Homo sapiens: one gene and its partner. The protein of the gene in region 2 purifies or fractionates together with the protein of the main gene of each other region. This does not show direct contact. Each region holds a gene or a part of one and is shown on either strand. Other genes may lie near its edges.

Region 1 (4,217 bases), on a different chromosome or scaffold from region 2:
CCACGGCGAGCTGGGCGGTTCTTTGCACGGGACCTTAGTCCCAAGCCACCTGCCTGGGCAGGGAGGAGTCCAGCCCGCCCACTGCTCTCAGGCTCTCCAAAAGCTCCAGGGCTGCTGACTAGCTGGGGCTGGCCTCCCCTTGCAGTGCTGGGTAAGACCGGGCTCTTGAGACAGACAAGTGCCTGGGGGCCCCTGCAGGGCCCTGGAATGGGGGCTGCGGGGTGGGCCTGGGGAGAGCTGTTCTGAGAGCCCCGAGGGCCCAGGAGGCTGGTGTGTTGGCGCCATCCCTGTCCCAGCTGTGCTCACAGTACAGGCTCCTGGGAGTGTTTGTAGTTTCCACAGAGGATGAGCAAGGAGCATCCCTGAGCTGCCTTCTGGGGCCAGCAGGCTCCGGGGGCAGCCACGTCCCACCAGGACATGGGGTGGGCAGCCCAGGCCATGGCTGCCCCTAAGGAGCTGAGGCTGGGTCCTAAGGAAGGACAGAGGCCTGGGAGCCAAGCTGTGGGGCCCGACCGGGAGCAGCTCATTTATTGAGCAGACATCTGCCGGGCAGTGCCCCCTGCACCCCTCATGGGGCTCACAACACCCCATGAGGTCGCTGGATGCAGCCCGTCCCACAGATGGGGAACGGAGGTACAGAGCAGCACATCACGTGTCCATGGCCCCTGGTCCACGCCCAGCCGACTCTGCCTTGGGGCCTCACTGAAGGGTGGCTGCCACCCTGAAGGGGCCACTGTTGGGCCATTCCTCAGAGCCAGGGTCTGCAGGTGGCATGCCCCAGCCAGGCCTCGAGTCATCGGTGGAACTTGAGGGTCACCTCCACTGGAAAGTGGTCGCTGATGGCAAGAGCCTGTGGGGACAGAGTGAGCCTCAGGGGAAAAGTGCACCCCACCCACAGGGATGGGAGGGGCCGGTGAGGCCTGGGTGCCCACCCCTGCTGCTGCCTGCGGTGGGGCAGGGGCAGGGGCCGGGGCAGAGGGTGTCACCACTGGCCCTTTGAGGGAAAGGCAAGGTACCCTGCCTGCCCAGAGCTCCACATGGGGTGGGCCGGGCTCTCCAGGGTCCTTGGAAACGAGCCCTGGTGCAGGGAGGAAGCTGAGGTGGCCCTGCCTTGGGCGCTGGACCCTCCCTGCTGCCTGCGTGCGCCCGGGCGGTGGGGACCCAAGACCAGCACCGCCCCACGGCCCACTCGCCTGAGTCTGGTCCAGGCCGAATTCCTCCTGGAAGTCGTGCACGGTGGCCGACTGGGGCTTCAGGCTCCGGCGCAGGCGGGCGCCACAGGCCACAATGCGGTCGTAGGCGCAGTCTGAGTTGCCCACCGTGGTGTCGGCGCTGTCAGGGATGAGCCACTTGAAGACCTCACTGCTCCTCAGACGGATGGCGGCCCAGTCCTGCGCCCGCACATAGCTGCAGTCGGCGTTGAAGTCGCCCAGGAACAGCATGTCCTGCGGGCGCCGCGGAGCCGTGTCTGAGCCGCCGCAGGAGCCGTCGAGGTCCCGCCCTCATGAACCAGACCCCCGGGGCGCGCCTGCAGGGACCCCGGGACCGAGGGGTGGGCTTACGTCGGTGCCCCACTTGTCGATCACGTCCAGGTACACGTCGTAGAGCGCGTCGATCTCCGCCACGGCTTGATGCGGCGCCGCGTGCAGCGGGATCAGCACCAGGTTCTGTGCTGCTGCGGGAAGGGGTGGGGGCGTCAGAGCTCGGCGGGAGGGGAGGGGCGGGGCCCGCTCACCGGTGCCGGGGGCCGAGAACTTGACCACGAAGGGCTCGCGGCTGAAGACGTCCTCGGGGTCTGGGTACAGGTAGGTGTCCACGACCGACACCGCGTCTTTCCTAGGAGATGGGGAGGACCCGCTGAGCCCCCGACCTGCGGCCCCGCGCGCCCCTCCCTGCGGCCCGCCCCTCACCTGTACACGAACAGGTACATCTCCTTGTACTGGTCCCGGCCCAGGGGCTGGCTGCTCACAAAGCTGTACTCGTGCTCGGACACGCTGCGGAGACAGGGGCCCGCTCAGGGTCGGGGCGCCGCGCCGGGGCGAGATCCCGGCGGGGGGTCGCGACGAGGGGCCCTGCCCACCACACCTGTTGATCTGCTCCATGAGCGCGGACACGGCGCTGAGGTCTGGGTCTCGCACCTCCTGCACCAGCGCGAGGTCATAGCCAGCCAGGATCTGGGGAGGAGCGGCGGGTGCGGGGGTCAGCGCGGTCAGCACCCCTAAACGCCGCCCCGCCCCGGCCCGGGCCCCACCTTCGCGATGATGCTGCCGCAAGCGGGGTCCGACACTTTGCTGTCACCGAAGCTCTGAATGTTGAAGGCTCCGATGCGAAGCGCGGCGGTCCCGGCGGCTTCCAGCGCCCAGAGTGCGGCCAGCAGAGCCCGGGGCCCGCCCATGGCGCGGAGCGAGAGGCTGGGAGGGACAGACGCTGCCGCCTACGCAGACCCGCTGTCAGACCCACCGACCCACCCCTTCCCTCCGCGGCCGCCCCTTGACGGCCAGTGCGACGCGGAATCCGCCCCTGCGTTCTGCAGGCTCCCAGGGCACTGCTGGGCTCTCAGGGACCGCTGCCTTCTCACTGCGCGGGAAGCTGCAGCCGGAATGGAGGGTCCGGCCCATCCAGCCCCAGCTCAGGGCAGCCGAGAGACTCACCTTGGATGTGGGTGCAGAGGCCCGAGGCTCAGAGATCCTAGGGGGATGGGGATCCCGGGTCCAGGCTGCGGGCGTGTCCGACACAGGACTGCACTGACTCCCTCTGGCAGTAGCTCTGGCACCAAGGCAGGGGCCGGTATTTGAGGTCCTGGGCCAGGGAGGGGCCGGGCTGCACTGGGTCCCGCCCCCTCGACTCAGCTGGGTGCCTGATGAACTCCTGGCTTTCATTCCCATGGAGACCCCCAGGGTAAGGGGTGGGAGACCTGCCTGAGCCGGTTCTGGTGCCCCAGACCTGTCCCAAAACCGTCCCAGAAGCCCCTGCCAGCCCCCTAGGAGGGAGGTAGACGGTCAGCCACATCCCGGTGCGGCTGTGTTCTTGTCCTCGCCCCTAGAAATTAGGTCGCCTAGACTCTGCCTCCCTGAGCAGAATCCCTTCAGGGAAAGCAAGGCAGCGCAGGTAGGACCAGCCACACTCCCTACCCAGCATCTCCTGCTGCTGCTCCACCTGCTCACCCTGCGGTGGAGGCCGAGGCTCCCAGATCTCCCTGTCCCCGTCCCTGGTCCTCCCACCCACCCACAGGCCTCAGGCAGCGCAGCTGGGGGCACAGCTCCAGCTGGGCAGGGCAGGAGGCTGTTGGTCAACATGCCAATGACACCCACACAGCACCAAGGCGCCGCCAGGGCTGGCAGAAGCCCCTGGGTGGGGCGGCCAGGCACGTGAGTCTAGGAGTGGCCTGGGAGGCAGGTGCTGCTGCGGGGGCCTGGGCAAAGGTGGTGGCACCAGCCGCGGAGGCTGCCACTGCCACAACATCACAAGCTGCAGGTTCTCATGTTTTATTGTAAAGCAACAAGAAACTCTTATGTACACTGTCCGTCTTGGGGCGCCTCCATCCTGTGCCATCTTCTCTACCAGGCCAGGCAGGCATGGGTGGGGCGCTCAGAGTCCTCTGCCCTGTCCCTGCCCGGCCAGGACCCCGCAGACCTCATGCTAGACGATGACCGTCTGCACCTCCAGCTGGCCCTCCGGCGAGGCGATGACCAGCTCGCCTGCATGCTCCAGGATCTCGATGTCCTCTGATGACACCATGGTCACAGTGGCCTGTTCAGTGCCACTTGTCCCTGCCCGGGCGGCAAGCACAGTGCCCTCGCTGATGGCCGAGGCCAGCGTCATGGCCACCTGCTCTGTCAGGCTCTCGGGGGTGGCGATGGTGATGGTGTCGGCGGCAGCCGCCTCTGGGCCCAGCGCCGTCTCCTCGTCCATGGTGACGTTCTGCACGATGATCTGGTGGCCGGCGCTAGCCTGGTGCACGATCTGCTGCACCACCTTCATGATGTGGCTGTCCACCTGCAGGGCCACGGCTCAGCAAGAGCGGCTGTGCCAGGGAGCCTCCCCGCCCCCGCCTGCCCTACCCCTCACCTCTGTCTGGGTGCCCTCGATGATCTCCGTGGCCTCACTGGTCTCCGCATCGTCCGCAGTGGCCTGGGCAGATGGGCAGAAGGACAGAGGTCAGCCTTGGCTGCCCCTGGGTCCCAGCACGGCCCCAGGGCCCCACACCCACCTCGATG
Region 2 (3,500 bases):
TTGACCTGATCAGGTGACACAGTGGCACAAGATCCACTCGAGGGAGTATCGGAGTCCCAGCCCGAGCAGGGGTCGCTGGGAGCCTGGGGGATATCCTGCAAGGTGGGACTCGTGGGGGTCTCCACGTAGGGGTCAGCGGCTTCCAGCTTCAGCAAGCCCCCCCTGTACCCCTCTTTCCCAGGCGCATCACTGTCCCTGCGCTTCCTCTTCTTCTTCTTCTTCAGCTTGTCCGTTTTCTTTCTGTCCAGCAGGAAGTTACTGGGCTTGGCTCGCTGCAAGAGAGTAGGCTGCAGGTGGCTAAAGCAGCGGTCAGAGACTGGCAAGGGCACTGAGGACGCGATGTCTGAGAAACCCGCGTCCCAGCCGTCGCTGTCAATGGTACCAGCAGTGCTGTTAGCAGGGCTGGGGCTGCTCCTTAAAGGGAGTTCCTAAAAAGACAAAGGTGGCAGATTCCAGTTACTGGTGACAAGATCCAGCCCAGAGCAGAGCATCCCCAGCCACCCAGCCATGTCAGACCTCCAGAGACATCTGCACAACTTTGAGCTTCTCTGCCCATCAGCATCACACTTGAAGCAACAGTAACATGAGTTCTGGCTGGGCGTGGTGGCTCACACCTGTAATCCCAGCACTCTGGGACGCCAAGGCAGGCGGATCACCTGAGACCAGGAGTTCAAGACCAACCTGGCCAACATGGTGAAACCCCATCTCTACTAAAAATACAAAAATTAGCTGGGCGTGGTGGTGGTGCCTGTAGTCCCAGCTACTTGGGAGGCTGAGGCAGGAGAATCGCTTGAACCCGGGAGGCAAATGTTGCAGTGAGCCACTGCACTCCAGCCTTGGTAACGGGAGGGAGATTCTGTGTCTCAAAAAAAAAAAAACCCAGTGCCATCAGTGCCATGAGTTTAATGTGATGCCACGAAGAGAGAAACTCCCTGCTGAACCCTCAGCCCCATCTTAGAGACAGAAAATTCATCAGTGTGCAACAGGTGTCTGTGGGAAGGAGTGCTGTGGACACCCACTCCTATCTGCTCATTGTTCCCTGATTGTAAAACCTCTCCTTCCATTTGCCCTCCCAAGAGATATATTGTTTTAAGTGAATTTAAATTAGTTTTGAGAATTTCCTGACACTCTTAAAAAACTAGACATTCCAAAATATTGCAGAATCCAAGTAGGTAATTACTGCCCCAAAGCAGTGAAGTAAACTCTATGGTTCATTCAGATCACAAGCATATCATTTGCAAACAGTGGCAACGTCCTCCTTGTCTTGCTAGAAAACAGGCATTAGGCTGGGTGCGGGGGCTCACACCTGTAATCCCAGCACTTTGGGAGGCTGAGGCGGGTAGATCACCTGAGCTCAGGAGTTCGACACCAGCCTGGCCAACATGGTGAAACCCCCTCTCTACCAAAAATACAAAAAAATTAGCTGTGCATGATGGCTGACACCTGTAATCCCAGCTACTTGGGAGGCTGAAGCAGGGAGAATTGCTTGAACCCAGGAGGCAGAAGTTGCAGTGAGCTGAGATCGCACCACCACACTCCAGCCTGAGCCACAGAGCAAGACTCCGTCTCAAAAAAAGAAAAAAAGAAAGAAAAGAAAGCAGGCATTAGCCACCTATGTAGCAGATGGAAATAAACCAATGCTGGCAGTTTGCCTGCTAGAAATATACTGAATGCAGCTGGGCACAGTGGCTCGTGCCTGTAAACCCAGCACTCTGGGAGACCAAGGCAGGAGCATCACTACCTCGAGACCAGCCTCAGCAACACAGTGAGACCTTGTCTCTACAAAAAATAAAATTACGGCCAAACGCAGTGGCTCACGCCTGTAATCCTAGCACTTTGGGAAGCCAAGGCAGGTGGGTCACTTGAGGCCAGGAGTTTGACACCAACCTGGGCAACATGGCGAAACCTTGTATCTACTAAAAATACAAAAATTAGGTGGGTGTGGTGGTGGGCCTGTAGTCCCAGCTACTTGGAAGGCTGAGGTGGGAGGATCACTTCAGCACAGGAGAAAGAGGCTGCAGTGAGCCAAGACTGTGCCACTGCACTCCAGCCTGGGCAACAGAGCAAGACCTGTCGCAAAAAAAAAAAAGCTGGATTGTTCAATTTTGAGCTTAATCGAATACGAAAGAGGCCTGAAGTCTGAGCACCACAGCCGCTCTCCTCCAGTCCTGCCCTGTTCTCAGCAAGTGAAAAAACCTCCTTCATCTACATCAAGTTGCAGCCATGAGTCCCTGAAGACAATCATACGCATTTCGGGCAGCCAGGGAGCTGAGACAGAGGCAGCGTGTGCACTGAGTCCAGCCATCTGGTTGAACCCCAAGCTCCACCACTAATCAGTGGGTGACCTAAGACAAAGTTTTCCCTCTCTATGCCTTAGTTTCCTCAGCTTATAAACTGGAGATAAAAAATAGCACCTACCTCATAGCATTACATAGGCCAAGAATAGTGTCCAGCTATGGTCAACAGTCAGTAACTACAGACCCTTATTAAAAGCAAGCAGACAGCCAGGTGCAGTGGCTCAACGCTTGTAATCCCAGCACTTTTGGGAGGCCGAGGCGGGTGGATCATGAGGTCAGGAGTTCGAGACCAGCCTCGACAACACGGTGAAACCCCGTCTCTAGTAAAAATACAAAAAACTAGCTGGGTGTGGTGGCGCGCCCAGCTACTCATGAGGCTGAGACAGGAGAATCGCTTGAACCCAGGAGGCAGAGGTTGCAGTGAGCCACAATTGCACCACGGCACTCCAGCCTGGGCGACAGAGCCAGACTCCATTTCAAACAAACAAACAAAAAGAGCAAGCAAATATCACATATTTTATTTGTAAATAAACTGAAAGTTTACTAAATCGGCTGGGCGGTAGCTCACGCCTGTAATCCCAGCACTCTGGGAGGCCGAGGCAGGTGAATCACCTGAGGTCAGGAGTTCGAGACCAGTCTGGCCAACAAGGTAAAACCCTGTCTCTACCAAAAATACAAAAAAGAATTAGCGTGGTGGCGCACGCCTGTCATCCCAACTACTGAGGAGGTTGAGGCAGGAGAATCCCTTGAACCCGGGGGTGGAGTTTTACGACACTGCACTCCAGCCTGGGCGACAGAGCAAGTTTCCATTCCAAAAAAAAAGAAAGTTTACTAAATCATTTTCTAGACAAGCCTGCATTTTCTACCAGAGTTTTTACCAGAGTTTTAGAACCATTTCCCCAGCTAATTCAAACTCTCAAGAAACAGATTTCTGCCAGACTAGTGACTGGGGTCACCACAAGCAGCCCCTTCCAAACCTACTGACCCTCTGACCAGTCAGAAGCCCACGAACTTGCGGTGGAGGCACTGGGTTTGACTACTCATCAAGAAAGGTCTCAGAAACTCAGAAGATTACCTCCTTCGGATAAGGGATGTAGCCAGCATAGGCCAAGACAAAGGTGCAGAATTTGTTGAAGTCTTCCACGGTCCTGCGCCTCTTGCAACTGGGGGAGTATTCCTATTAAGGGGAGAGAAAAGGGAATG

Evidence for each region. Proteins that work in one complex are often made in the same cells at the same time.
Region 1: the proteins of PHF13 (region 2) and DNASE1L2 purify together in Homo sapiens (affinity purification with mass spectrometry; 3 studies listed by BioGRID and IntAct, with this or other methods). This does not show direct contact.

What each region holds. Positions count from the first base shown.
Region 1 is NC_000016.10:2,234,995-2,239,211, reverse strand, and holds DNASE1L2 (deoxyribonuclease-1-like 2 precursor), read right to left. Parts: upstream 2,769-4,217; 5' UTR 2,652-2,768; exon of another isoform or gene 2,435-2,651; 5' UTR 2,396-2,434; coding exon 2,252-2,395; intron 2,175-2,251; coding exon 2,086-2,174; intron 1,995-2,085; coding exon 1,911-1,994; intron 1,837-1,910; coding exon 1,563-1,836; intron 1,446-1,562; coding exon 1,194-1,445; intron 851-1,193; coding exon 794-850; 3' UTR 501-793; downstream 1-500. Other genes in the region: transcription factor E4F1, read right to left, coding at 3,640-3,996, 4,069-4,131, 4,211-4,217. UniProt on the Homo sapiens protein: Divalent cation-dependent acid DNA endonuclease involved in the breakdown of the nucleus during corneocyte formation of epidermal keratinocytes.
Region 2 is NC_000001.11:6,616,731-6,620,230, reverse strand, and holds part of PHF13 (PHD finger protein 13), read right to left. Parts: intron 3,475-3,500; coding exon 3,373-3,474; intron 429-3,372; coding exon 1-428. UniProt on the Homo sapiens protein: Modulates chromatin structure and DNA damage response by regulating key determinants of chromatin compaction and DNA damage response.